7 linked regions of the Homo sapiens genome follow. The protein of the gene in region 1 purifies or fractionates together with the protein of each later gene. This does not show direct contact. Each region holds a gene or a part of one and is shown in the gene's direction. Other genes may lie near its edges. The genes, in order: CNOT6L, OBI1, CHAF1A, TOB2, DCC, LRSAM1 and MAP4K4.

Region 1 (4,443 bases):
ACAAAATCAGGCTATTGTAGTTTCTTGTCTACTTCTTGGTTTAGTATTTGTAGTGATAACAGCCTCACACCCTCCTAAATATAGCAGTTTGAAGGATAGAACATAATTTAAGAAAATTGTCTTATTATAAAAGCAATGCTATAATACTATACTGTATTAAAAAGAGATCATTCTAGAGAAGTTGAAAATTTTGAAAAAATATAAAGCATGATGGAGGGAAATACCTAATTTCATGTCATAAGATAGTTGTGTTAAAACTTCTGGAGTATTTTTCTTCTATACATTAAGTAAAATATATTTACAGATACATTTTGATTCTTATTTATTGTACTTAATGGATTTTCCATGTTACTAAAATTCTTCAAAACTCATTAATTATATGAACGTATATTGATGTAGCTTTTCCCATACCATTGGACACATTTAGTTGTTTATGGGTTTTTGCTGTCATAAACTCATGCTGTTAGAAACATCTGCATACATAAATTATCTTCATATTTATTTCATTTAGAAAGACCTGTTAAAATATTTTATGAGTCAAAGAATAAAATAGACTAATAATTATTAAATTAATAGAGGCCATTGGATGATTGCGATTTAGGTACTTAAAAATTTCTTAAAGTAGAATTTTTTGTGGATAGATTTTACGTTTCTCACTCTTGGGTATCATTTCTTTCCACCATAGTTCAGAAGGATATGCAAGTTTTTAAATTACCTTTTTATATATAAATTACTATTCCCTATCACAGAATCTATCATATACCCAACTTGCTTTGTTTAGTTGCCAGTCTTGAGGAAGTAAAGTATAATGGAGTGAACTGTAAATTGGGAATCAAGAGACCTTGGGATGTAGTCCTACTCCTGTTACTATCTGTGTGAGCATGAGAAAATCATGTCACCTTTCTGGTTCTTTCATGTTTAAAAAGCTGCCATTGTCAAGTAGCAGCTGCTAGCAATCAGGTAAGATAGTAAGATAATATTTGCTATGTGAATTATTTTTACTAAGTTACATCTTACTCATAATGCTGAACATTTTTATATCTTAATCAGCATTTTCCCTCTGTCATATAGATGATAACTTTTCTTTCATCTCAGGAAGTGGAAACAGAGCAATACTTCACTCTCTTTCTGCCAGCATTGAAGGAGCGTGGATATGATGGATTTTTTTCTCCAAAGTCACGTGCCAAAATCATGTCTGAGCAGGAGAGAAAGCATGTAGATGGTTGTGCAATATTCTTCAAAACAGAAAAGTAAGTTAAGGAAACAAAGCACAATGGTGTACTTTTATTTATTTAAATGCTTACACTTTAAAATTGTCTTTGGTTTTGCCCTATAAAATCAACAGAAAGCTAGAAAACAAGTATTATGCAACTTAAAACTGTTGTTAATGTTTCATTTCTCAGGCTGTGTATTCGAAATAAGGATATTTATTGTATTATTCCTTATGCTTTTATTACCAAATAACACTGAACATTTTAAGAGATACAGACTTGAATGGTCTCATATTTCAGAACATATTTTCATGAAGTAAAGTATTAGTTTTTGTGTAAAAAAAGAAAGTGATACCTTTTAAGGTTGGCCATAAGTGATCTGGGTTTCTTTTCTGTGATTTTTTTTTAATAATTGATTTTTGAGAATCATTCATTTTAAAATCATTTATTCACTAAATGTATACTGAGCATTTGCTTTGTGATAAGTCCTGTGCTAGACACAACAGACACAAAGATAGTCAAGACATAGTTCCTAATCTCACTGAAAGCTCAAATCCAGTAGGAAAAACTAGGCATATAAGACAATTGCAATATCATATGGTGTAATATAAGATAGAGGTCTGCCTGGGTAGATAAGAGAGGCAGGCACAGAGCATATGGAGGTAGAGAGTTAAAAGGGTTGACTGAGACAGGGCAATGGAAAATGAAACGTGACATCTGATAGAGGTTGAATCCCATGGTTAATAGTTTGGATTTCATACGTTAGGAAATCATCTTACAGGATAAGCATATACATGCTTACAGCTGTTTTCCAGTATTTCCCCATTTTACATCTATTTTACCAAAGCCAATCTGTTTTTATTGATCCAAGCATATTACCAGCATGACATGCTATTTTAAGTAAACAAATTCAATGAATTTGAAAGATATTTGGTCCACTTCCCATTTATCTATGCCTACTTTCCTGTCTTTTCCATGAATTTGTAGTAGAGATATTCTTATTTTGGTTAATAATTAGTACAAAGCCTTGTAGTATTTGAGGTCAGAATATACTAAATTCTTCTAATGGTTTGGTAATTTTTTATGCATTTTAGAATAATTCTATTAAAACTACGTATCTCTTAACTACGGGAATATGTTCTGAGAAATGCATCATTAGGTGATTTTGTTGTTGTGGGAACATCATGAAGTGCACTTACACAAACCTAGATGGTACAGCACTATACACCTAGGCTATAAGGTATAGCCTGTTGTTCCCAGGCTAGAAACCTGTACAGCATGTTACTGTAGTAAATAGACAATTGTAATACAATGGCATTTGAGTCTAAACATATCTAGACGTAAAAAAGGTAATGTATTGTGCTGTGATGTTAAGACACCTACATCATCACTGGGTGATAGGAATTTTTCAGCTCCATTATAGTCTTGTGGGACTACCATCGGCATGTAGTCCCTTGTTGACTGAAATCTTGTTATATGGTATATGACCGTACTTCCAGAGTGTTTGCCATCTGTCAGCCTTTTCGAATTGTTTATATTAGTTGTCTTGTTCAAATTTTAAAGCAACTCTTACAGGCAGCTATACAGCTATTTCCTTGTTTTTAAAGATGAGGAAACCAAGGTACAGACAAGTTCAATAACTAGTTCCAGTTACACAGTCTGATTTCATAGTCCATGCTTTTAACTACTGTAATAAACTGAATCTTTAGCCTTCTTGTTTGAGCTTTTGATATCACTAATACCTCTTATAAGATTACCTCATTTAGAAAAATTGCCCTGAATTTGACATTTGTTTTTGTTTTTAGACAGGGTCTCAGAGTCTTACTCTGTCACCCAGGCTGGAGTGCAGTGGCGATCATGGCTCACTGCAGCCTCAACCTCCCCAGGCTCAGGTGATTCTGTCACCTCAGCACCCTGAGTAGCTGAGACTACACGTGCATGCCACCACACCTAACTAATTTTTGTATTTTTTGTAGAGATGGGGTCTTGCTGTGTTGCCCTAGGCTGGTTTTGAACTCCTGGGTCCAAGCAATCCACCCGCCTCAGCCTCCCACAGTGCTGGGATTACAGACGTAAGCCACCGTGCCTGACGATATTTGTTACCTATGTTCATACACAAATCCCCTTGAAACACCATAGCTTAAAAAAAAAATGCACCAGTAAACTTGAGACATCTAACATCAGGCTCTTTTTCTATTTGCTATAGTTTCTTTCAAGATAATATGGAAGATTTTTATTATTACTCTCACAGTTTTGAGAGGAAAAATCTAAAATTCCTTAACAATTTACTAGAAGTAGTTAAGGCTTTGAAATAACAGTTAGAACTGTTATCTGGGTATTTGCAAATTGATTCTTGAATTATTAAAAATGCTGTGAACTAGTTAAGTAATGAGCACATAGGAAGTACTTAGATGTGTCACCTGTTTTTCTTTTCTTCCTCAACTCTTTTTTCCTGAATAGTAACATGGATCTGGCAACAGATTGAATGTGATACATCAGTATATTGTACCTCTTTTCAACTTCTTTCCTGGAATGACAGGACTATATACCTCCTATAGGTAGAACAAAACCACCTTCTGTCCCAGTACCAGATATTTATCCATGTCTTAGCTGACTATTCAGTGCCAACTATTTGGAATTTAAAGTATTATACCCTGCCTTTATTCTTTCTTCAGACTGGAAATATAGGGCAAAAAAAGACTGTGAGTTTTGAAGCCAGGTGCTTCTTCTATTTATTTAGCTATATAATGTTGAAAGACTTAGCATTTCTGGACCTGTTTCTTCATTTGTATATTCTTATCTTGTAAGATCATTTTTGTAGAGGTTACAAAACTAACAAAGATAACTGTGGAAGAGTAGTCAACACTGTACTTACTCTCAGTCTCTTTCTTCTGTAATCAGAGTATCTGATAATTCCTCATCTTCACTGATGACTGTTTAATCATACATGAAAAACTGGTACAGAATACGCAACAATAAATGGAAACTATCATAATTGCCATTTATAGCAAAATACTATAATAAAAATCTCTAATCCATCATGATGAAAGGATAGAGTATTGTTTAGTAAAGGCTAGGACACAAGTTACCAATATTCAGATAATTAGAATATAATACACTGTTCTTTAAATCACATTATTCTAGTTTAGTTTTGGGGGATTCAGAATCTACTTCAGGATTTGGCAGCACCTGTTTGGTCATCATTATGAACATCATTTTTTGGGAGTTAGAT
Region 2 (4,443 bases), on another chromosome or scaffold:
CTCCCAAAGTGCTGGGATTACAGGCGTGAGCCACTGCACCCAGCCAGTAATACATTTTTATATAATCTCTTGGTTAAATGTAAATGTAATAATTGGTTTTATTATTTAAATATAGTCTAGTTTTCAGAATTTGAAGTAGTCCAAATGTGATAATTACAGCCCTTTCCTCCACTGAGTTTGCTGTGATAAGATATGTAGATATGTAAATACAATATGATGTGTTACTGAAGGTATTTCTTATGGTGTTATTTGATATATTTTTTTTTCCTCAAGATTAGGGTAGAGAAAAGGCCTAGATGTAAGCCCCAAGTGTGTATGTAAGGGGAAGGGTAGATGTGAAGCTGGGAAGCTATATAAAACAATATGAAAAAGGATCATTTTCATTCTTCCCGAATCAGAATGAAAAATTAGGATTTTTTTTTTTTTCCCTACAGGAGGAACAAGTGAAAGTGAACCTATGCTAAGCCATACGGTCAGGAAGCATCTTCGGAAAACTAGACTTGAATTACTACACAAAGAATATGAGGTAAACAGTAATCAAAGTTTAAAATTATGTTAGCAGTGAATTCAAGGTAAAAACTGACCTACCTCAGTCCCCAGACTTCTTAGAGTAAATATCCAATGAAATTTTATTTTAAAAGCCTATAAAAAGAAATTGTTTGATAAATTCTTTTTTCTTTTTTCCTTTCGTATTTTAAATAGAGGAAAGAGATTTTTTGTTTTATTTTTTTTCTTTAAGTACCAAGGAATGGGGGAATGGGATTCCAGAAAAAAGGAACAGATGGAAGCATTTCTTTCTTTTTTTTTTTTTTTTAAGTTAAAATTTGTACCTCCACAGACATATCATTTTGTATTTGCTTCCTCAAGAAGTTGGGAGAAAAAGGAAATCTCCTTGTGAAAGCCAGTCTGACCTCTGCAGTCATCAGTTGCTTCTGCCTATGAAGTTACTGATGATTATAAGCCTGATCAATTCTAGTAAAGTAAATACTATACCTTATGTCAACTGCCAGCACAGAGATTTTAGTGTGAAACATGCTGTTTCCTAATTATTGTCTAAAGGTGAATGAACAGGATGATTGGACATGGTGATGCTATTTTTACAAATAAATTCATGCTAATAGAATACATACACTTTTGAATAGTACACATTAAGCCCAGTTGTCATTTTATGTTGACTGAAGAAGGAGATATCGATCCCCTCTTGACTCAAAATATCTTTCAGTTTAACTGTGTACATGGAAGGTGCCTCAACTGCCTCAAAAATTTTTGGAATGCAGTGGGGTATAAATACATGATTGAATATATGTTTATTCATATATGTGTTCCTTACATATATGAATTTGCTTGTTTTATGAAAATGCTATTTAAGTTGAAATGTATTGCAATTTAAAATAGTAAGTAGTACTATCTGTGTGACATTTAATGCTAAAATGTATTTTTATATAATGAATATTTATCATACTCAGATGGTAAACAAATTAATCCTTTGGGAGATCACTTGAGCTACTTGGGGGTTTATTTTCTAGCAGAATTTTTAACAACCTCAATTTAAGGTGACATATTTATTATAGATGAATAAATGGCATCATAGTAAGAAGTTCTAACCCAAATGTTTAGTGACTGGTTTTAGGATAATAAACATTTCCAGAGTGGGAAGGCTAATACTTGCAATAGTCACAGTAGTAATTGAAGAACCAGAATCCAGAAAAGTTGAAAATTCAAAATTAACTACAGATATTATTCTGGAATGAAAAGTAGAAGGAAATGGTAGATGGTTTCACTCATACTTCAAATATAGAAGTGAAAGTATAAATATCAAAACCCTAACAATCCTCTTTTTCTTTTTTGAGACAGAATCTCATTCTGTCACCCAGGCTGGAGTGCAGATGGCATGATCTCGGCTCACTGCAACCTCCGCCTCCTGGGTTCAAGCAATTCTCCTGCCTCAGCCTCTCAAGTAGCTGGGACTGCCGGTGCCTGCCACCACACTCAGCTAATTTTTTGTATTTTTAGTAGAGGCGAGGTTTCATCATGTTGGCCAGGCTAGTCTTGAACTCCTGACCTCAGCTGGCCCACCTGCCTTGGCCTCCCGAAGTGCTGGGATTACAGGCACGATCATCTTGATAACTCTGTACAGTCAGCCCACCATATCCAAGGATTCATCATCTGTGGATTCAAACAACCAAGATTGAAAATTAAAAAAATAAATATATATAAAAATAATGTAGTTTAATAACTATTTGTATGACATTTACTTTGTATTGGTTATTATAAATAATCTAGAGATGACTTAAAATGTATGGAAAGATGTATGTAGGTTATATGCAAATACAGCACTAGTGATTTTCCATCAGGAACTTGAACATCCATGGATTTTGGTATCCCTAAGGGTCCTAGAACCAATCCCCTGTAGATGTGGGGATGAGGTGGGGACAAACTGTACCTTTTTTTTTTTTAACCCGGCCCCCCTCAATGTACTTTCAAATTCCCCTCAGTAAAGCAGTTGAGTATGCCTCAAGTTTTTTGTTTTTTTGTTCTTTTTTGAAATGGAATCTACTTCCCTGTTGGAATTCATGTGACTTTTCTTATTTTCTGGATGATATCTTTTTTTTGTTTGTTTGTTTTGTTTTGTTTTTGTTTTTGTTTTTGTTTTTAATTATACTTTAAGTTTTAGGGTACATGTGCACATTGTGCAGGTTAGTTACCTATGTATACATGTGCCATGCTGGTGCGCTGCACCCACTAACTCGTCATCTAGCATTAGGTATATCTCCCAGTGCTATCCCTCCCCCCTCCCCCCACCCCACAACAGTCCCCAGAGTGTGATATTCCCCTTCCTGTGTCCATGTGATCTCATTGTTCAATTCCCACCTATGAATGAGAATATGCGGTGTTTGGTTTTTTGTTCTTGCGATAGTTTACTGAGAATGTTGATTTCCAATTTCATCCATGTCCCTACAAAGGACATGAACTCATCATTTTTTATGGCTGCATAGTATTCCATGGTGTATATGTGCCACATTTTCTTAATCCAGTCTATCATTGTTGGACATTTGGGTTGGTTCCAAGTCTTTGCTATTGTGAATAATGCCGCAATAAACATACGTGTGCATGTGTCTTTATAGCAGCATGATTTATAGTCCTTTGGGTATATACCCAGTAATGGGATGGCTGGGTCAAATGGTATTCCTAGTTCTAGATCCCTGAGGAATCGCCACACTGACTTCCACGATGGTTGAACTAGTTTACAGTCCCACCAACAGTGTAAAAGTGTTCCTATTTCTCCACCTGGATGATATCTTAAATAGAATCAAAGATTTGGCATTTTTAAAAATCACAACTAACATTGAATTAAAATGAAGGCAACATAAATCCCAATTTTTATCAGTCAGGCCACATTTTGAGAATTTAAACTGTATGTGACTTTCTCCCTGCAAAACTCTTTTGATATGTAAAGAATCTATGTATCTACAGAATTTTAAGTACAAAATTCAAACCATGTTGGCTTCAGTTTAGCATATGTATGTATGTGTTTAGTGTCTATGCCTGCCTCATGACTATGCAATGCTTTTTCAGGACGAAATAGATTGTTTACAGAAAGAAGTAGAAGAGCTTAAGAGTAAAAATCTCAGCTTGGAGTCACAGATCAAAACTATTCTGGATCCTTTAACCTTGGTGCAGGGCAACCAAAATGAAGACAAACATCTAGTCACAGATAATCCAAGTAAAATTAACCCAGAAACTGTAGCAGAGTGGAAGAAAAAACTCAGAACAGCTAATGAAATCTATGAAAAAGTGAAAGATGATGTGGATAAGCTAAAGGAGGTAAGTTGTGGTTTTTAAAAATCTATTATGGTTGTTTTTAAAATAAGTACCTTCAAAAGCATAAATAGCCATATTATCTTGACTCATCATCAGATGATTTGTGAGGAAAGGACAGAATCTCTGGATGAGCATTTATATGCAATAAGAAGACTTTTTCTTATTTAAATATCATTAACTGCCAAGAAATATCAGGTGGTTCCATGTGTGACTATAATTAGAGACTGTTGTGCTTCTGTATAAGATTGCATCTTCTTCTAGAAGAATAATACCAATTTAAAGGATGTGTTTCTGTTTCGTCCTCTTTGTGGTTTGCCATAGGTTTTTTAAGCTTATATCAGCGACTTCCCCTGTGTACCTAAAAACAAACACATAACCATTTTCGCACCAATGAAAGGAAAAGTTTTGACCTTATCTTTTCTTTTGCTACCACTCTCTTATTTTTAAGATTGTAGATAGATAAAGACTTGGTGACTAATTCCAGGACAGCAATAAGCAGCTGCTTCAGAGTACCTCATGCAAAAGAATGTTGTGATTTATGAAACTGGTTCATTTTTTTCAGTTTTTCTTTGAACGAGATACAGCATGGTGAAAAAGGCAAACCTCTAGGATTTTTCGGCC
Region 3 (4,443 bases), on another chromosome or scaffold:
TAGAGATGGGGTTCACCATGTTGCCCAGGCTGGTCTCAAACTCCTGAGCTCAGGCAATCCTCCCGTCTCAGCCTCCCAAAGTGCTAGGATTACAGGCCTGAGCCACTACACCTGGCCGCAGGGGACTTTTTACTTATTGCTTAAAGGTTAGAGAAATTGAACATCATGTCATACCGAAACAAACCAAAACTCCAGGGAAGGCCTCTGGGCTTTGCCTATGCAGTGCCAGCTCACAGGAGGGGCCTGGTGACCATGGGCTCTGCGTTTACTGAGTGTTTCCTGAGCTCCCTGATGTTCACTGGGCGTTTCCTGAGCTTCCTGATGGCCACACTGAGTTTTTGTGTTTCAGATTTGGGGTTGATTTTTATTTTATTACTTTTTTTTTTATTGAGACACAGTCTCTGTTGCCCAGGCTGGAGTGTAGTGGTGCAATCTCGGCTCACTGCAGCCTCTACCTCCCGGGTTCAAGCGATTCTCCTGCCTCAGCCTCTCGAGTAGCTGGGATTATAGGCACGAGCCACCACGCCTGGATAATTTTTTGTATTTTTAGTAGAGACAGGGTTTCGCTATGTTTGTCAGGCTGGTCTCAAACTCCTGACTTCAGGTGATCCACCCACCTTGGCTTCCCAAAGTGCTGGGACTACAGGTGTGAGCCACCACGCCCAGCCTGATTTTTATTTTTACAGTTTATCTCATTCTTTGGAACAAGAGCACTTTTAAAGCTCATTGGAACCTCCGAGTCCCGCACACCGGGTTGGGGAGCGGAGAAAGTATCCAACGGCGGCTGAAGAAATCTGATTCACCTGCAGTTTCTAGAAGCCTTCTATTTCCTGCTTAGCAACAGGGTGGGAGACTCTTCACCCAGTTATGTTTATAGTCTCCTTGTTCAGTCCAGACGGTCACCTTCCTCGTGTGTCTCGTATATCAGATGCAGTCACACAGCACACTGGCAGGAAATGCACATCAGACATCTTCCAGGCTGTGTCTCTGTGGCTTTTGTTAAAGCTACCAGAGATGTATTGGAACACATTTAGAATTTTTCCTTAGAGACAAGGGCAGATATCCTAACCCAAACTGAAAGCTGAGCTGTCAGGCTCCAGACGTGTGGGAAGCCCATATTGGATGAGAGGTGGTCCTCATGCAGTGTTAGGAGCGGGCACCTGTGGAGCTGGGCAGGTGAGCGTTTTTTTTTTTTATTTTGAGACAGTCTCGCTCTGTTGCCCATGCTGGAGTGCAGCGGCGTGATCTCGGCTCCCTGCAACCTCCACCTCCCAGGTTCGAGCGATTCTCCTGCCTCGGTCTCCCAAGAAGCTGGGATTACAGGCACGTGCCTTCATGCCCAGCTAATTTTTGTATTTTTAGTAGAGACGGGGTTTCACCATGTTGGCCAGGCTGGTCTCGAACTCCTGACCTCAAGTAATCCGCCTGCCTCGGCTTCCCAAAGTGCTGGGATTACAGGTGGGAGCCTGCGCCTGGCTGAGCATGTTTAACATTGAACTTCAGATTACGTAATGACTGAGTGTCCCAGGCCACTGCCAAGTCTTTGGAATGAGGAACGTAGTGATGAAGTGTTACTTCCTTAAAGAATTTGAAACAAGGCTGGGCGTAGTGGCTCGCCCCCATAATCCCACACTTTGGGAGGCCAAAGTGGGAGGATTTCTTGAGCCCAGGAGTTTGAGACAAGCCTGGGCAACGTAGTGTCTCTACTAAAAAGAAAAAGAATTCCTGGGCTGGTTGCAATGGGTCATGCCTGTAATCCTAGCACTTTGGGAGGCTGAGGTGGACAGATTGCTTGAGCGCAGGAGTTAAAGATCAGTCTGGGCAACATAGTGAGACTCCATCTCTACAAAAATTAGCCAGGTGTGGTGACAGGTGCCTGTGGTCCCAGCTACTCGGGAGGCTGAGGCAGGAGGACTGATTTGAGCCCAGGACGGAGGTTGCAGTGAGCCAAGATAGCATTGCTGCACTCCCTCCAGCCTGGGCACTAGAATGAGACTCTATCTCCAAATAAATAAATAATGTTTTTTTGTTTTGTTTTTCAGACAGAGTCTTGCTCTGTCACCCAGGCTGCAGTGCCGTGGCGTGATCTTGAACTGCCTTGTGGGTTTAAGCGATCCTTGTGCCTCAGACTCCTGAGTAGCTGGGACTATAGGTGTGCGCCACCACATTCAGCTAATTTTTTTGTATTTTTGGTAGACTTGGGGTTTCACCTTCTTGGCCAGGCTGGTCTCAAACTTCTGGCCTCAAGCAATTTGTCTGCCTCAGCCTCCCAAAGTGCTGGGATTATAGGTGTGAGCCCCCTCAGCCCAGCAGGATTGTGTTTTAAATGAATCTTATATTGAATTTCCCACAAGTACCAGGACACAGGGCTAATTCTTAACATTTTTCTCATGATGGAAGGAAGCATAATGGATTATGAAAATCACTTCTGTGGCTGGGTGCTGGGGCTCATGCCTATAATTCCAACACTTTGGGAGGCTAAGGCAGAAGGATTGTTTGAGGCCACGTGTTCAAGACCAGCCTGGGCAACACAGCAAAACCCCATCTCTAGGAAAATTACAAAAATAGCTGGGTATAGTGGTGTGTGCTTATAGCCCCTGCTACTCAGGAGCCTGAGGTGGGAGGATCACTTGAGCCTGGGAGGTCGAGGCTGCAGCCAGCTATGACTGCACCACTGCACTCCACCATGGGCAACAGAGTAGACTTTGTCTCAAGAAAAATAAAATCACTTCTGTGTAAAGTTGTTGACTGGAGGCTCCTCCTGGAGCTGGTCTCTGAATTCTTATTTATTCATTTATTTTTTTAACTGAGTCTCAGTTGCCCAGGCTGGAGTGCAGTGGTGTGACCTCAGCTCACTGCACCCTACGTCTCCTGGTTCAAGTGATTCTCCTGCCCCAGCCTCCTGAGTAGCTGGGACTACGGGTACCCTCCACCACGCCTGGCTAATTTTTTTTTTTTTTTTTATTAAATGGAGTCTCACTCTGTCACTGATGCTGGAGTGCAGTGGCACCGTGTTGGCTCACTGCAACCTCCGTCTCCTGGTTTCAAGCAATTCTTCTGCCTCAGCCTCCCCAGTAGCTGGGATTACAGGCGCCCACCATGCCTGGCTAGTTTTTTTTAAAAATATTTTTAGTAGAGATGGGGTTTCACCATCTTGGCCAGGCTGGTCTCGAACTCCTGACCTCAGGTGATCCACTTGCCTCGGCCTCCCAAAGTGCTGGGATTACAGGCGTGAACCACCGCGCGCAGCCAATTTTTGTATTTTTAGTAGAGACAGGGTTTCACCCTGTTGACCAGGCTGGTCTCAAACTCCTGACCTCAGGTGATCTACCCACCTCAGCCTCCCAAAGTGCTGGAATTACAGGCGTGAGCCACCATGCCTAGCCTTGGTCCCTCAATTCTGTTCATCCCGTCCAGGCCGTGCTGTCCTCCATGCTGTGAACCGAGCTTCCTCCTGGGAGTTGGAGGGAGGGCCACCTGTCACTTGCCACACTGTCTTGTAGGATCAGGAGCGTCTGGGCAAGCAGCTCAAGTTACGTGCAGAAAGGGAAGAAAAGGAGAAGCTGAAAGAGGAGGCCAAGCGGGCCAAGGAGGAGGCCAAGAAGAAGAAGGAGGAAGAGAAGGAGCTTAAGGAAAAGGAGAGGCGGGAGAAGCGGGAGAAGGATGAGAAGGAGAAGGCGGAGAAGCAGCGGCTCAAGGAGGAGCGGCGCAAGGAGAGACAGGAAGCCCTGGAGTGAGTGTCCTTGGAGGCCATGCTGGGCCCGCCACCCTGCTGCTGGATTCCGCTCCTGGCCACTCTGATGGGGCCTTTCCACTTCACAGGCAGATGGCGGCTCCCTTCAGTTCCTTCCCATTTCTCCTTCGTGAGGTGCCCGTGGGGCCCTGACGTGGGAGCGGTGGAAAGCAGCTCCCTGCTCTTTAGTGCTCCCCCACGTCCAACTCACCCTGGACCCCTTGTCTCTGCTGTGACCATCCTTCCAGTTCCCAACCAACTTAGGCATTTGCATTGCAGGATTGTGGGTTTTGTCTGTGCTAATTGTGCTCTGACTGGCTAAAGTTTTTTATATATATTCTAGTCACAGGAAGAATTTTATTGACTGTTTTCCATTTTTATTGTGAAGACCTATGTAAAAGCCTTATACTAGACATGAAAATAACTTATATTCATTTAATGTAAAATGAAATACTTGCCATATACTAACAGTTGAGTGCTGCGGTCCCTTCCAGAGCCAAAGCAAAGAGTCGGCTGAAATGTCATTTGCTGTCTCACAGGGCTAAACTTGAGGAAAAAAGGAAAAAGGAAGAAGAGAAACGGTTAAGAGAAGAAGAGAAGGTAGAGTGTTTCCCACAGAGCTTCCCCGTCCCAGCCCGTTGGAGAAGCAGATGCCCAAAGTGGAATTCTTGCCACAGCCGTCACCTAATATTCTCTTGGTTTGGGGAAAC
Region 4 (4,443 bases), on another chromosome or scaffold:
AGGCCAGGAGTTCAAGAGCAGCCTGGCCAACGTGATGAAACCCCGTGTGTACTAAAAATACAAAAATTAGCCAGGTGTGGTGGTGCATGCCTGTAATTCCAGCTACTCAGTAGGCTGAGGTGGGAGAATTGTTTGAACGTAGGAGGCAGAGGTTGCAGTGAGTCGAGATCACGCCACTGCATTCCAGCCTGGGTGACAGAGACTTCATGTCAAAAAAAAAAAAAAAAAGCCAGGTGTGGTGGTACATGCCTGTAGTCCCAGCTACTTGGAGGCTGAAGTGGGAGGATCACCTGAGCCCAGGGAGGTGGAGGCTGCAGTGAGCTGTGATCCTGCACCCTAGCTTGGGTGACAGAGTGAGACCCTGTCTCAAAAAAAGAAAAAGAGGCCAGGCGCGGTGGCTCATGCCTGTAATCCCAGCACTTTGGGAGGCTGAGGTGGGTGGATCACGAAGTCAGCAGTTCGAGACCATCCTGGCCAACATGGGGAAACCCCGTCTCTACTGAAAAAAAAAAAAATTAGCCAGGAGTGGTGGTGCACGCCTGTAATCCCAGCTACTTGGGAGACTGAGGCAGGAGAATCGCTTGAACCGGGGAGGCAGAGGTTGCAGTGAGCCGAGACCGTGCCATTGCACTCCAGCCTGGGCGACAGAGCAAGACTCCGTCTCAAAAAAAAAAAAAAAAAGAAAGAAAAAGAAAAAAATAGACATTTGAAGAAACTTAGAGATGAAGTCTGTGTTGGAGGCTGGGAAAAGAGGGAAACCAGGGTATTCTGAGTCCTGAGTGTTCTTGTGGAGGGTTTGGGAGAGGCATAGTTGTGGTACCTCTGCTGACTCCCATGTGACCTTCTCTGTTCCTCAGAACTGAAATGAGGGTTAACTAGATTCAGCCACTGTCATGCTGCTCCAGATTGACCCAGTGAGTCTTCTCTGATACATTCACCCCAGAAATCTTTTTCTGAGGATTTAGTCCCAAAAATGCCCCTTAAGGCCGTGTGTGTTGGCTCATGCCTGTAATCCCAGCACTTTGGGAGACCAAGGCAGGCGGAACACTTTAGGTTAGGAGTTTGAGACCAGCCTGGCCAACATGGTGAAACCCCATCTCCACTAAAAATACAAAAACTAGCCAGGCGTGGTGACGGGCACCTATAGTCCCAGCCATTCAGGAGGCCAAGGCACGAGAATCACTTGAACCTGGGAGGTGGAGGTTGCAGTGAGCCAAGATCACGCCACTGCAGTCCAGCCTGGGCGATAGAACGAGACTCAGTCTCCACATACATACATACATACATACATACATACATACATACATACATACATACGTAAAATTAAATTAAATTAAATGCCCCTTAAGAGCCATGGGCCCAGGCCTGAGAATTACAGGGAAATGTGTTGGGGCAGGTGTTTAGAAAACTCAAAATCCCCAAGCCTGAAATTAGCACCTGGATACTTCAAGCTGGATCCAGAAAGGATTTGAATCAAAATCCAGCCCCAAGTCTTTCATAGGACAGAAGATGCCCTTGACAGTTCATGGAGCAGTCATGTCTCTTTGCTTAGCTCAGCAGCACAGCCTTGCCCAGAGGTCTGGCTAGGAACATGTTCTGGCTCTGCCTCCTCTCAGAGATGGCTCTTTCAGTTCAGTTTCTCCCCCAGCATGAGCCCCGGAGCTGCCCTTTTGGAGAAAATGAGATTAGGATCACTGGCTCTCAGGACCTCACAGATCATCTTCCTGAGACATGAGGCTGGCCCAGGCCAAGGGAATAAACCTTTTTGACCTCAGTGGGATCTGGCTGTGAGAGAATCCCAAAATAACAATCTGGTGTTTATCTTGGGCTGCCTTCTCTCCGGGGATCTCAAAACACTTGATAAATCTGATCTGCTGCCGAGGACAGGTGGTCAGACAGTCCCTGGGAGACTGAGTGATGATGGGTCCCTACCGGAGGCTGCAGGGTGATGGAAAATTTCTTTCCTCTGCCACCCTCATCACTTACATTCTCACCAGAAACTACAGAGATTCCCCCTCCTTTTCTCTGCTTCCCTGTGGCAGCCCCGAGTCAGCAGTTCCCTTGTTGGTCCACATCTCTGATTGTGACAGGTCTTGCCTTTTTCCTGGGGCTCATGCTCTTGTCTTATGTCTTATTCCTTTTTTTTTTTTTTTTTTTTTTTTTTTTTTTGAGACAGAGTTTCGCTCTTGTTGCCCAGGCTGGAGTACAATGGTGCGATCTCGGCTCACCACAACCTCCGCCTCCTGGGTTCAAGCGATTCTCCTACCTCAACCTCCCGGGTAGCTGGGATTACAGGCATGCACCACCATGCTCGGCTAATTTTTTGTATTTTTAGTAGAGACAGGGTTTCTCCATGTTGGTCAGGCTGGTCTCGAACTCCCGACCTCAGGTGATCCACCCGCCTCAGCCTCCCAAAGTGCTGGGATTACAGGCATGAGCCACTGCACCTGGCCGGAGTTCTTAAATCAGTTCTGCAAACCTGGACTGAACCAGACAGCATACACACCCATGGGGCCCATGATGACAGATGGATGTGACTGGAGTCCAGGCCCCCAGTGAAGAATTGGCAGTGCTCTTTCCTGTTCAGTGACCTGTATCCCTTTTCATTTAAGGAGGACAACCAAATATTTTAAACTTACATCTTAGTCTGTGACAGTTTGGGGGCACGACTTCACCAAGATATTGCAGAGACAGCAAGAGACTTCTTCTTCACCTGATTTAGGGACTTGATTTTTTTAGTGTCATTCATACAGTGACCTGAATTCTCAAGATGGTGGAAAACACAGCTTCCCTATTTCTTTAGAATTACTTTAAAATAGTAGCTTTTTTTTTTTTTTTTTTTTTTTTTTTTGAGATGGAGTCTCACTCTGTCGCCAGGCTGGAGTACAGTGGCATGATCTCGGCTCACTGCAACCTCTGCCTCCTGGGTTGAAGCAATTCTCCTGCCTCAGCCTCCCAAGTAGCTGAGACTACAGGCATGCGCCACTATGCCCAGCTAATTTTTGTATTTTTAGTAGAGATGGGGCTTCATCATGTTGGCCAGGATGGTCTTGATTTCTTGACCTCGTGATCTACCTGCCTCAGCCTCCCAAAGTGCTGGGCTTACAGGCATCAGCCACCGCGCCCGGCCAATAGTAGCTAACTTTATCAATTACCTTTTAATTGCCAGGTACACTGTGAGGCAGTTTATATCCTTGAACTACCTTAACTTCATGATGGCCTCATGTTACTAATGAGGAAACTGGGGCCCACAGTCAGACATGAGCCACTGGTGGGGCAGAAATAGGCTCCTGGTTCTGTGTGATCCAAAGTTGGTGCTTTTCTGTCTATCCCTAGCTGTTGGTCACCACCAGCTTTCTGCATATTTTCTCACGGTGCCTCTCATTTCCCAGAGCCGCCTGGAGCCCAAGGCTGTACACGTGCCCTGTGCTGATTCTCTGCCTAGGAAAGGACCATGCAGCTAGAGATCAAAGTGGCCCTGAACTTCATCATCTCCTACTTGTACAACAAGCTGCCCCGGCGCCGGGCAGACCTGTTTGGGGAGGAGCTAGAGCGGCTTTTGAAAAAGAAATATGAAGGCCACTGGTACCCTGAGAAGCCACTGAAAGGCTCTGGCTTCCGCTGTGTTCACATTGGGGAGATGGTGGACCCCGTGGTGGAGCTGGCCGCCAAGCGGAGTGGCCTGGCGGTGGAAGATGTGCGGGCCAATGTGCCTGAGGAGCTGAGTGTCTGGATTGATCCCTTTGAGGTGTCCTACCAGATTGGTGAGAAGGGAGCTGTGAAAGTGCTGTACCTGGATGACAGTGAGGGTTGCGGTGCCCCAGAGCTGGACAAGGAGATCAAGAGCAGCTTCAACCCTGACGCCCAGGTGTTCGTGCCCATTGGCAGCCAGGACAGCTCCCTGTCCAACTCCCCATCGCCATCCTTTGGCCAGTCACCCAGCCCTACCTTCATTCCCCGCTCCGCTCAGCCCATCACCTTCACCACCGCCTCCTTCGCTGCCACCAAATTTGGCTCCACTAAGATGAAGAAGGGGGGCGGGGCAGCAAGTGGTGGGGGTGTAGCCAGCAGTGGGGCGGGTGGCCAGCAGCCACCACAGCAGCCTCGCATGGCCCGCTCACCCACCAACAGCCTGCTGAAGCACAAGAGCCTCTCTCTGTCTATGCATTCACTGAACTTCATCACGGCCAACCCGGCCCCTCAGTCCCAGCTCTCACCCAATGCCAAGGAGTTCGTGTACAACGGTGGTGGCTCACCCAGCCTCTTCTTTGATGCGGCCGATGGCCAGGGCAGCGGCACCCCAGGCCCGTTTGGAGGCAGTGGGGCTGGCACCTGCAACAGCAGCAGCTTTGACATGGCCCAGGTATTTGGAGGTGGTGCCAACAGCCTCTTCCTGGAGAAGACACCCTTTGTGGAAGGCCTCAGCTACAACCTGAACACCAT
Region 5 (4,443 bases), on another chromosome or scaffold:
TCCACGCTGATCTAAGAAGTGTATCAACAGATTCATGCCAGTCAGTTTTTCCTATGCCATTTTTGCTATGGAAGTTCAAACTCTCAGAACTGTATTACAGGCCTACAATGTATATCTGTCCAAAGCTAGGTGTTATCCAAGCCTGGGGAAAATACACAGACAACATTATTAAGTAAGGCTGTAGTTAAACCTGGAATGGTGGTATCATTTGTTGATTTTAGGTAACCATAGTGTGGCCATTGCATTTACCATTTACAAGCTATATACAGGTCCATATGCAGGAATACAAAATTATGAAAAAATACAAAATTTGCAGAGAATCAAAATGGAAGCTTTTTCTTAACACATTCTGTATCTGAACCTGACCTGACCTCATGCTAGGCTATTCATAGTCTCTAATGAGCCCATTTGGCATGAATATCATATGCTTTACTGCAAATATATAGTTACATTTGATTAACAATGTAAACAATTTGATATGAGTATCATATGCTTTACTGCAAATATATAGTTACATTTGATTAACAGGGTGCTACTACAGACCCCATTAGGGAAAAAAGAAAAAAAAACCCTGCACAGATACTATGTTACTTTTCTAAAATCTGAAAGTTTCAAAATCTTAAGATACCTGGGCTGGGTGTGGTGTCTCACACCTGTAATCCCAGCACTTCGGGATGCCAAGGCAGGAGGATCGCTTGCCAGGAGTTCAAGACTGTCCTGGGCAACAACATAGTGAGACCCAGTATCTACAAAAAATAAAAATAAAAAAATAACTGGTCATGATGGTGCATGCTTGTAGTCCTACCTATTCAGGAAGCTGAGACAGGAGGATTGCTTGACCCCAGGAGTTCAAGGTTGCAGTGAGATGTGATCATGCCACTGCACTCCAGCCTGAGAAACAGAGCAAGACTCTGTTTCTGGAAAAAAAAAAAAAAAGTGTTTTAGGTAAACGATTGTGGATCTGTGCTGTCTAATTTCATTAGCAGACAAGTTATTTATCCTTCTTAAGTAACAATAATAAGAGAAAATGTAATACTAAAAAGTGGAATTGAAAATGGAACACTAAAATTCATTTAATGAACCCAGAATCAGGCAAGATTTTAAAACTCTGACTTAAAGAAAGACAATGTGGTAAATTATCCATAGCTGTGCGACCTATTTTAATTATAAGTAGAACCATAATATACAAGTACTCCAAATGTACTTTCTCTTTTCCTTCTGCAGTTATTAGCCATGTGCAGGCAAAGACATAGTGGCATAGTGGCAAATTTTTCAGACTAAGAATTTAGATTCACAATCCCACTCTTTGCTGCCATTATCTTAGTCACTTGTACTCCTTTACCAGTTTCTCTAAATGTAAAATAAAATAGGCAATTTTGGTTAATGTAAGCTTTCTTATGAATTTTAAAATGAAGCGATTCTAAAGCTTCCAGAGTTTATATTTTTATATTCTTATTCCATATTATTCTAAAATACATACTCCTAGAATTTTATTGAACTGTAAAAATGTAATTTTGTTTGTTTTGAGAACAAAAACCCACTTATCCTAATCACTTTTCTTTCTTTCTTTATTATTTTTTTATACAGTGCAAGTTCCAGGGCCAGTAGAAAACCTGCAAGCTGTATCTACCTCACCTACCTCAATTCTTATTACCTGGGAACCCCCTGCCTATGCAAACGGTCCAGTCCAAGGTTACAGATTGTTCTGCACTGAGGTGTCCACAGGAAAAGAACAGGTAGGTGAAGGAATGGACCACACTGCTTCCATCTGTTGGATGTTTCCATCCATTGGATAGCTCTAGGGCTGGAGAAATAGGAAAAGACTCGCAAACTCTTGAAACAGCCCAGTGTTAACACATTCATTGAAAAGCTGATTAGTTTTAAAGCACTTGTTATTGGAAACTTTACACAATTTAATTAAATTCTGGTGGTAAGAGGTAAATGGGCAATAAAGTGAAGTCAATAGAAAGGATACCAATTTTTTGGTTGAGTCTGCAGTGGCCTGGCGTGTGTGGGCAACCAGATTTGTATTAACTCACCTGGTCGTGGAAGGCATTTGCAGTTTTATTCCTTAGACTAAGGGGTGATTGCCCTCCTAGTCAATGGCGTTTGCCAAACTGCTTTTTTCATTCTAAGACATTTATATCTAACTCCCTTCCATCATCAGGATGTGTCCTACCATTTTTTAATGTTTTCAGAAGAACTTACTCTGAGAAGCCTAGTCTCCTTCTCCTTACATTTTGCTCCTACCCAATGGTTAGCATAGACACCTGAAAAGAAGCAAATTAACTGTTCAGGTAAACTAAAAGTAAAAAGGTCTTTAGGGAGACACATGAAACTGAAAAATTCTATTTGGTGATACATGCACACACATATGTTAAAAATAGAAATTGAGTTTCATATATATGTGTATATATAATATGTATACCTATATAATACATATATATTACATATATACGTATATGTATTATACATGTATAATACATATATAAGCATAATACATATACATATATTATATATTATATAATACATATATACATATACATATATAATACATATACGTATACATATATAATACATATACATGTGTATATATACATATATGTGTTATACATAATACATATATACCACATATATGTATTATAACACATATATACCACATATATGTATTGTAACACATATATACATATATGTATTGTAACACATATATGTATATATGTATATATACATATATGTATTGTAACACATATATGTATATATGTATATATACATATATGTATTGTAACACATATATGTATATATGTATATATACATATATGTGTATATGTATGTGTTATATATAGTATATATAATATATAATGTATATGTATTACATATCTATGTATATACATGTATTATATATAATACATATCTATGTATATATACATGTATGTATTATATAATACATATCTATACATCTATATGTATATAATACATATCTATGTATAATATATAATACATATATGTATACATATATATAATATATGTATACATATTTATAATGCATATATATATGTATGACTGTTGAGGTATTTACTTCCAGATTCTCAACTTCATGTAGGAAAATATATACAGACATGTATATATTCAATAGTTAAATCAAAAATTGGCCCCAGGATATGGGAGTTCTTATTATTTGTTGTGAAGCTTGTCAAGCATAGAAAGGCCTTCCTGCTTTCACATAAACTGCATGATCAGAATTTTTACTTAAAAATAAGAAATATTTTATATTCAAAAATAGCTCAAGCCCAGTCCCAAATTATATTATAAGATAAGCATTACAAGAGCTCCTCCTATGTAATCATGGGTTGTATTTTTTTCTTGCTATCTTCAAGCTATTTTTTGCTCTTGTTTTTTCAACTTTCTGTTTTATCTGCCTTTCTATATATTTTAGCTCTTCAACGCATTTTGCCAACCAATTTAAATAAATTCAAAACCATCATCATCCAAGATAGATGTGAGTGTGAAGATCTGATTCCTCAGTAACCTTCACCTCCAGTATCTCATTTACTGCAGCCATGAGAGGCTCAAATAATTTCAACCAATCTAACAGCATTTTGGGAGATAAAAATTGTGGCAAAGTGTCTGACAGTTTCAAGAGCTGTGGGTATATTTCAGCAAGAGAAGCACAAAATCTATTATTTCTTGGTGAATTATTCCATTTTGGGTACAGGAGAAAATCTCTGTTCCCATGGCGTTATAAGCTGCCTTCTGCCTGTGAGGGTTTAGGTGTGGGTAGAATAACCCAAACCATTCAGTACATTGAGTAGTGTTAAACAAATTGGAACTTAATGACTGTAAAAATAGCATGTGCTGTTTTAACAAGGAGTCTACAGATTAGTTGGTTTTTAGTGGGGGAGTCTGTGTCACAAGGTAGGTTTTATAGCTCATTAGAAGGCTGGAGTGTAGTTTGTAAGAGTCTAATGTCCAATTCACTGATTGCACAGAATGAGTGCCATTTCTACTTTAATGTGCTTCCTTGATAACAGTTTTGGTGTTTTATGTCTCCAGAATATAGAGGTTGATGGACTATCTTATAAACTGGAAGGCCTGAAAAAATTCACCGAATATAGTCTTCGATTCTTAGCTTATAATCGCTATGGTCCGGGCGTCTCTACTGATGATATAACAGTGGTTACACTTTCTGACGGTAAGTTAAAAACAGTGAAACTCCTTTTACATATTTGACATAATATTGACAATAATGACATGATATTGCACATATATCATATATTCCATTTTCAAGGCTTCCTGACTAAAATTTTATGGACTATTACAGTTAAATGTAAACTTTCTATCAAGATACATACTCCCAGCTGGATGTGGTAGTTCACACAGGTAATCCTAGCACTTTAAGAGACTGAGGCAGGAGGATGAGTTAAGCCTAGGAGTTCAAGACCCACC
Region 6 (3,500 bases), on another chromosome or scaffold:
CAAACATTTAAAAATGCCAACTTTGCTGGTAATCAGAGGAGAGGCATGTTAAGTTAAAACAACATTGAAATACCATTTCCTTCCTCAAGATTGGCACACATTTTGACATGACAATTTCTGTTGGCCAGAGTATGGGAAAACAGGTGTCCTCATAAACTGCTCTTGGGAGTGAAAATTGGTATCACAACTTTGGAGGATAATTTGACAGTAGGTGTCAAAAAAGATTTTATTATTTTTTTATTTTTTTTTGAGATGGAGTCTCACTCTGTTGCCCAGGCTGGAGTGCAGTGGTGCAATCTTGGCTCACTGCAACCTCCATCTCCCGGGTTCAAGTGATTCTCCTGCCTCAGCCTCCCGAGTAGCTGGGATTACAGGGATGCGCCACCATGCCCGGCTAATTTTGTATTTTTAGTAGAGACGGGGTTTCACCATGTTGGCCAGGCTGGTCACGAACTCCTGACCTCAAGTGATCTGCCCACCTCGGCCTCCCAAAGTGCTGGGATTACAGGTGTGAGCCACCACACCCGCCAGATGTCAAAAATTTTCATGGGCACAGCCCGTGATCCAGAAGTTCCGCTTCTCAATGTATACCCAAGATAAATGCTTGCATGAGGAGACATTTGCAGGAGTGTTTATTGCAGCCTTATTTGTAGTATTGGATGCCCCCCAAATGTTTGTCAGTGAGAAGGCACTGCCCCTGGGTCATGTGCACACCATGAGATGGAGCATTTGAGCCTCGGCTCGCTGGGACACATGGATTAGTGAAAAGGGCAGATTGCAGAACAGGATGGGCTAGTCTATTTCCATTCTTATGTTTAAAAAGAAAACTCAATCAACACCAGCCTGGGCAATGTGGCGAGACCCTGTCTCTACAAAAAATACAAAAAAATTAGCCAGGCATAGTGGCACGTGCCTGTGGTCCCAGCTACGAGGGAGGCTAAGGTGGGAGGATGGCTTAAGCCCAGGAGGTTGGAGTTTGCAGTGAGCTAAGATTACACCACTGCACCCCATCCTGAGTAACAGAACTAGACCCTATCTCAAAAAAGAAAGAAAAAGAAAACTCAAAACAAAAAAAGGAAACAGACAGGTAGTTGCCAGTGGCTGGAGTGGGAAGAGGATTTGATGATGAAGTGGCATGAGCGAATTTTCGAGGGTGATGGAATTGTTTTCTTTTTTCTTTTTGAGACAGAGTCTCACTCTGTCACACTAGGCTGGAGTGCAGTGGCATGATCTCAGCTCACTGCAACCTCTGCCTCTCAGGTTCAAGCAATTCTCCTGCCTTAGCCTCCCGAGTAGCTGGGATTACAGGCACCTGCCACCACGCCTGGCTAAGTTTTGCATTTTGTTAGTAGAGACGGGGTTTCACCATGCTGGCCAGTCTGGTCTCGAACTCCTGAACTCAAGTGATCCACTTGTCTCAGCCTCCCAAAGTGCTGGGATTACAGGCATGAGCCACCGCGCCCAGCCAGAATTGTTTTCTATCTTAATTGTGTTTAGAGGTTACAGAACTCTATGCATATATAAAGATTCATAGAATTGTTCACTAACATTGGGTGAATTAGAGTAAATAGATTATACTTGATTAAAAAAATGTTTATATATGCACACAAATACAAATATATTTCTTTCCCAAAGGCACAAATTATATATGTACAGATGCATGCCTTGGGCCTGATAATGACAGTTACACCTGACAGGAGGTGTGGGGTGGGAGGGGAACCAGGGTTAGGCTGGAGTGGTCAGTAGATGCTTTAGTTTTTTATACCATGTTTCAAACTTTTACAAGGAGAATATATTGAGATGTTATCTGTATAATTGAAGATTAATTTTAAAATTATATTCCTACCATTAGTATAGGCAAAATCCTATTTATAGGTTGCTGCTTTTATAATTCAGAGACTGATCCTGTTCTCAAAACAGGATAACTAAATAGAAGGACCATTCAAAAAATACCTGTGTGCCAGGCGCAGTGGCTCACGCCTATAATCCCAGCACTTTGGGAGGCCGAGTCGGGTGGATGCTTGAGCTCAGGAGTTTGAGACCATCCTGGGTAACATAGCAAGACCTTGTCTCTACCAAAAATACAAAAAATTAGCCAGGCATGGTGGTGCGTGCCTGCAGTCTCAGCAACTTAGGAGGCTGAGGTGGGAGGATCACTAGAGCCCAGGAGGTCGCGGCTGCAGTGAGCTGAGATTGTGCCACTGCACTCCAGCGTGGGCAAGAGTGAGACTCCATCACAAAGAAAAAACTTGTGTGGGCCGGGCGCAGTGGCTCATGCCTATAATCCCAGCACTTTGGGAGGCCGAGGCAAATGGATCACCTGAGGTCAGGAGTTCGAGACCAGCTTGGCCAATATGGTGAAACCCTGTCTCTATTAAAAATACAGAAAATCAGCCGGGTGTGGTGGTGGGTGCCTGTAATCCCAGCTACTCAGGAGGCTGAGGCAGGAGAATTGCTTGAACCCAGGAGGTGGAGGTTGCAGTGAGCCAAGATTGTGCCATTATTGCACTCCAGCCTGGGCAACAAGAGCAAAACTCCGTCTCAAAAAAAAAAAAAAAAAAGAAGAACCTAACTCTTGTGTATATGTGTATTGCTGTTTAATTACATCAATAATAAATTAATTAATTAAACACCAATAATTACATTACATTATTGATGTTTAATACCTGCTCCTTGTTATAAATTTAAACAATACAGACAATTACAAACCAAGTGAATGTCAACCCTTCCACCCTGCACTCCCGTTGCCTGGAGGTAGTCATCATTAACTGATTAATGACTGTCCTTCTTGACCTTTGACTCAATACCTTCACACATATGCTCAGAGTTGAGTTTTCTTGATGATGTTTTTGCAAAAGTAGAATCATGCTACACACAGGTGAGGGATCTCACACATTCGCCCCATTGGCGGTTGTGTAATAGTCCACTGTATGGATGCACCATGACTTACGGACAGATGTTGATAGATGTATGAGTTATTTCCAGTGTTTTTGCTCTTTTGAATAATTCTGCAGGAAGTTGTACCCACACCTTTGTGCACTGTGAGTATTTTGGTGGACTGGAACCGGGTGCTGTAGGTGTGTTACGCAGACATCCATGGGCATCAGATATCCCATTTCCTGCTCTGCTCTTCAGACCACCATCCCTGCTCAGGGCTGCATCCCAGAACTGTCTTGAAGAGCCCCTCCTACAGTGCCATGCACACAGTGACAGCCCAGGGGTTCTCATCAGGTGTCCACTGGAACCACCTGGTGCCCTTGATCAATACGGATCCCCTCATCCCCCGACCCCACCATTCTGAGGCAGTGGTCTGGGGTGGGCCAGAGTTTGTATAACATCAGGCCACCCGGGGGTTCCTGGTGCCCATGCCAGGGAGAACCACTGCTGCCACCCTCTCTTGACCACTGTCTTTTTTTCCTCCCAGAACAGGTTCTCAGACTATGAGAAGAGGAAGGTAAGAAAATGCCTTTACCCTTCTGTCACTCTTTTCTCATTAAAGA
Region 7 (3,500 bases), on another chromosome or scaffold:
GAGGCCTCCTGGTATCCCTGTCCTTTATAATACGCATGCAGCTTTGAAGTAGGGTTTTACCCCTCTCTATAACATATTTGGGATGTGTTTACTTGTTTTCATTGTTATAATGACTAATCATTCTCTTCTCATTGAAAAGAAAAACCACCCCATCCTCACTTCCTGCTGTCTTTCTCTCCCCTTGTCCTTGTCTGTCTCTGTCTGTCACACACACACAAGCTCATCATGGAGCCTGGGTCTGTTCATTTGAGGAGAGTTGCCCAAGTCTGGAATGTAGTCATTCCAGGTGCCTTTGGAATTGTTAGTGAAAGCATGAATCATGTTTGTTGTATTTTATTATTAAGCAGGTTTTGGTTTTAGGTTTCAAAAATTGGTGATCTGTGCTTGTTACAAATAATGACTAATAAGCAGATGTTTACTAATCAGAACCCTCTGATACTTTTTAATTAAAATCTTGATTTCTCTGGGGTTTACCAACCTTAAGAGGAATGGCATACTGTTTTAAAATTCTGTATTTGTTTACAACAGCTGTGTTCTAACAGAAGTACTCTTAGATCCCTTCGTGTATATTATGGGAATGCATATCATCATTTGTTAGACTCCTTAGGTCTTACTGGCCAATTTGAAGTTCTTGGAGAAATCTTTAGCAATAGATTTTCTTCAGGTATTTACCACTAAGTGAATTGTCACTAAAGGTGATTGGAGCAAATGGTTCTTGGTGCTCCATTCAGGTGGTTCTGATGCTTTTCTTTGGGATAATTTGATTGCTGGGTGATTTCTGTGTGACAGGAGTATATCAGGCGACAGCTAGAAGAGGAGCAGCGGCACTTGGAAGTCCTTCAGCAGCAGCTGCTCCAGGAGCAGGCCATGTTACTGGTAAAGCCCCGCCTCTGTTTCATTCTGTAGCATCAGGGCTCCTTCATCCGTCCCCAAAGTTGAGCAAGCTGTGGTGGTCACCAGACCATTTTGGTTTTGCTGTGGGCAGCCAGGCTGAAATAGTGATGCCCATTTTGTGGTCCTATTGCTAGCACATTGCAACATGGTCTTTATTTATTTATATCTCTTTAATAAGTTAATTGTTCTTGTTTGGTAGACCAACAAGGTTTTGAACAGAACTTGGCACTCAGTGAACACACTAGAATGCTGAGGGCAGTAGGTTGAAAGCACATGTCACAGGATTTTTACCTAGTATCTATACCACTAAAACTCACATTTAATTGAATTATCTCTTACTCTGTCCAATGATAATTATGGTTAGCAACAGCTGTGAGATTTTTCCACAGGTAATGTGCTATTTAAAATCCCAGCCATTTTGCTTTCTTACAAAACACAGAGGGAAAATATATGGTCACTTTTTTTAAAAGCCGAACAAATCCAGAGAAGAGGCGAGCTCTCCAGTGTCCCATAGATTTAGTGTTATCCTCTCCCTCTCCAAGGAGTGCCGATGGCGGGAGATGGAGGAGCACCGGCAGGCAGAGAGGCTCCAGAGGCAGTTGCAACAAGAACAAGCATATCTCCTGTCTCTACAGCATGACCATAGGAGGCCGCACCCGCAGCACTCGCAGCAGCCGCCACCACCGCAGCAGGAAAGGAGCAAGCCAAGCTTCCATGCTCCCGAGCCCAAAGCCCACTACGAGCCTGCTGACCGAGCGCGAGAGGTATCCTCTTTCCTTTGTCACTTAGACATTGCCCTGGAAAGTCGTATAACGACTCTTCAGAACTGTGTCATATGAGTTCTAGAACGGGCCATAGAGTTTAGCTAATTATCTGGTTTCTTCATTTTCTAACTAGGAAATTGAATTTCAGAGGAGTGGAGGGCCTTGCCCAAGGTTTCATATTCAGTCAGTGCTTTTTCCATAAAGGACCAGAGTGCCTCAGTTAACATATCCCAGAAGAACTTGAAACTGAACTAAACTAAAAGATTACATGACACAGTCACTCTTAAAAATGTGGATGAGGGAAAGAGTGGTCTGATGAACTATTCTGCCAAGCTAGTATAAAGCTAAAGTGTGCCTGTGGCTCAACTTTCTGACTTTGCAGATGTCAAGATGCCCTGCTAGATTGGTGCATTAGGGTTACCCAGAGCCTCAGAGTAGGCTGCGGCAGGGACTGCTCGGGGGTGCAAGATGGGCGACAGGTGTGCCTCCAGAGGTGTTGAATCCCGGCCCACAGGTGGCAGCAGCCTTCTATTGTGTCTGCCCTCACAGGCAGTAGATTCTAGAAACAAGTGTTCTGTTTGTTCTGGAGTGCTTTTATATTTGGTGGAGTGAAATGCATTCCGGATTTCTGATGATAGTTTTTTAGTCTGTTGGTTTAGTTGCTTGTGACAGATTAATTTTTTTCTACTTCATCATCATATACAGTCTTAGAATTCTGAGCAAGGAGGAGAGCTTAGAGACTGCCTTGCTAATTTTTATCTTCATAAATATTTTCTTTTTCCTGAATCTAATCCTAGCACTGCTTTATGTACCTTCTTTTTTCCAGCTACCCCTCTCTTTTCTGGTAGCAGAAGAAAACAGAAAACTTACCTTTAGATTTCTTCCACTTTTAGACTTTCTTTGATATTTCTGCTTTTCCCCTACTAACACTGAGTTATGTCTTCTAATTCTCTGATGCAGGTGGAAGATAGATTTAGGAAAACTAACCACAGCTCCCCTGAAGCCCAGTCTAAGCAGACAGGCAGAGTATTGGAGCCACCAGTGCCTTCCCGATCAGAGTCTTTTTCCAATGGCAACTCCGAGTCTGTGCATCCCGCCCTGCAGAGACCAGCGGAGCCACAGGTAGCGACAGCCAGCTTTGCTGTGGTTGAGGAGACTCATGCAACGGCTCGCTGAGCCGCAGGCCTGCTGTAATATCACAGTTTAGTTTGTCACCACACTGAAAAAGAGGAGAGATTAGCAGGAGTGAGTTTAGACTAAAAGAAGGCATAGACTCAGTTGATAGGGAAATATCTTTTTCTTTCTTTTTGAGATTTCTATGTACTCATTAAGAGTATCTAGAGTGAGTGATTTCTTCTAACTTTTTGCCTTCCCTAACTCAGGTGTTAAGTGCCTCCTTTTTCTGATACAAAGATCTTTTAGTTTAGTTTTTAGAGAACTGGGATTATAAATACATAGAGGGAGAGCCAGGAATTTTCTTTGAAGTATTTTAAAAGTAAGCGCTTTACTGTGTGAGCCCTGGCTCTTGGCCAGTCCTATGAATGGGCCTTAGATGATGCCCCTGAAATTGCATGCAAAATGTCTTTATTTGCTCAAATGTGTATTTTTTGTGGGGGTGGGGGGAATGACCTTTTATCAGATTCTCACAGGGTTCAAGATCCAAAAAAGTTTAGATCTAGTGGGTTAGGTGTGGATTTCTCTGAAATAGGCCAGGGAAAAGGCTGTGACCTCTCCTTGGGTCTGCTGCAGCGTTCTAGCCTTGGCTAGGTGAGGGGAACTGTTGGGCCGATGCTGTGTGGCTGGAGCAGAACCCACAGTGCTGTCCATAGAGGAGAACAAGCA

What was found.
Region 2: the proteins of CNOT6L (region 1) and OBI1 purify together in Homo sapiens (affinity purification with mass spectrometry; one large-scale study listed by BioGRID and IntAct). This does not show direct contact.
Region 3: the proteins of CNOT6L (region 1) and CHAF1A purify together in Homo sapiens (affinity purification with western blotting; one study listed by BioGRID). This does not show direct contact.
Region 4: the proteins of CNOT6L (region 1) and TOB2 purify together in Homo sapiens (affinity purification with mass spectrometry; one large-scale study listed by BioGRID and IntAct). This does not show direct contact.
Region 5: the proteins of CNOT6L (region 1) and DCC purify together in Homo sapiens (affinity purification with mass spectrometry; one large-scale study listed by BioGRID and IntAct). This does not show direct contact.
Region 6: the proteins of CNOT6L (region 1) and LRSAM1 purify together in Homo sapiens (affinity purification with mass spectrometry; one large-scale study listed by BioGRID and IntAct). This does not show direct contact.
Region 7: the proteins of CNOT6L (region 1) and MAP4K4 purify together in Homo sapiens (affinity purification with mass spectrometry; one large-scale study listed by BioGRID and IntAct). This does not show direct contact.

Annotation. Positions count from the first base shown.
Region 1 is NC_000004.12:77,738,948-77,743,390, reverse strand, and holds part of CNOT6L (CCR4-NOT transcription complex subunit 6-like), read left to right. Parts: intron 1-1,071; coding exon of another isoform or gene 1,072-1,095; coding exon 1,096-1,250; intron 1,251-3,187; coding exon of another isoform or gene 3,188-3,283; intron 3,284-4,443. UniProt on the Homo sapiens protein: Has 3'-5' poly(A) exoribonuclease activity for synthetic poly(A) RNA substrate.
Region 2 is NC_000013.11:78,638,205-78,642,647, reverse strand, and holds part of OBI1 (ORC ubiquitin ligase 1), read left to right. Parts: intron 1-434; coding exon 435-526; intron 527-3,576; coding exon 3,577-3,825; intron 3,826-4,443. UniProt on the Homo sapiens protein: E3 ubiquitin ligase essential for DNA replication origin activation during S phase.
Region 3 is NC_000019.10:4,419,063-4,423,505, forward strand, and holds part of CHAF1A (chromatin assembly factor 1 subunit A), read left to right. Parts: intron 1-3,503; coding exon 3,504-3,733; intron 3,734-4,272; coding exon 4,273-4,333; intron 4,334-4,443. UniProt on the Homo sapiens protein: Acts as a component of the histone chaperone complex chromatin assembly factor 1 (CAF-1), which assembles histone octamers onto DNA during replication and repair.
Region 4 is NC_000022.11:41,436,357-41,440,799, reverse strand, and holds part of TOB2 (protein Tob2), read left to right. Parts: intron 1-3,392; 5' UTR 3,393-3,454; coding exon 3,455-4,443. UniProt on the Homo sapiens protein: Anti-proliferative protein inhibits cell cycle progression from the G0/G1 to S phases.
Region 5 is NC_000018.10:53,203,629-53,208,071, forward strand, and holds part of DCC (netrin receptor DCC), read left to right. Parts: intron 1-1,587; coding exon 1,588-1,736; intron 1,737-4,050; coding exon 4,051-4,189; intron 4,190-4,443. UniProt on the Homo sapiens protein: Receptor for netrin required for axon guidance. Mediates axon attraction of neuronal growth cones in the developing nervous system upon ligand binding. Its association with UNC5 proteins may trigger signaling for axon repulsion.
Region 6 is NC_000009.12:127,475,510-127,479,009, forward strand, and holds part of LRSAM1 (E3 ubiquitin-protein ligase LRSAM1), read left to right. Parts: intron 1-3,424; coding exon 3,425-3,454; intron 3,455-3,500.
Region 7 is NC_000002.12:101,858,207-101,861,706, forward strand, and holds part of MAP4K4 (mitogen-activated protein kinase kinase kinase kinase 4), read left to right. Parts: intron 1-789; coding exon 790-876; intron 877-1,436; coding exon 1,437-1,658; intron 1,659-2,618; coding exon 2,619-2,780; intron 2,781-3,500.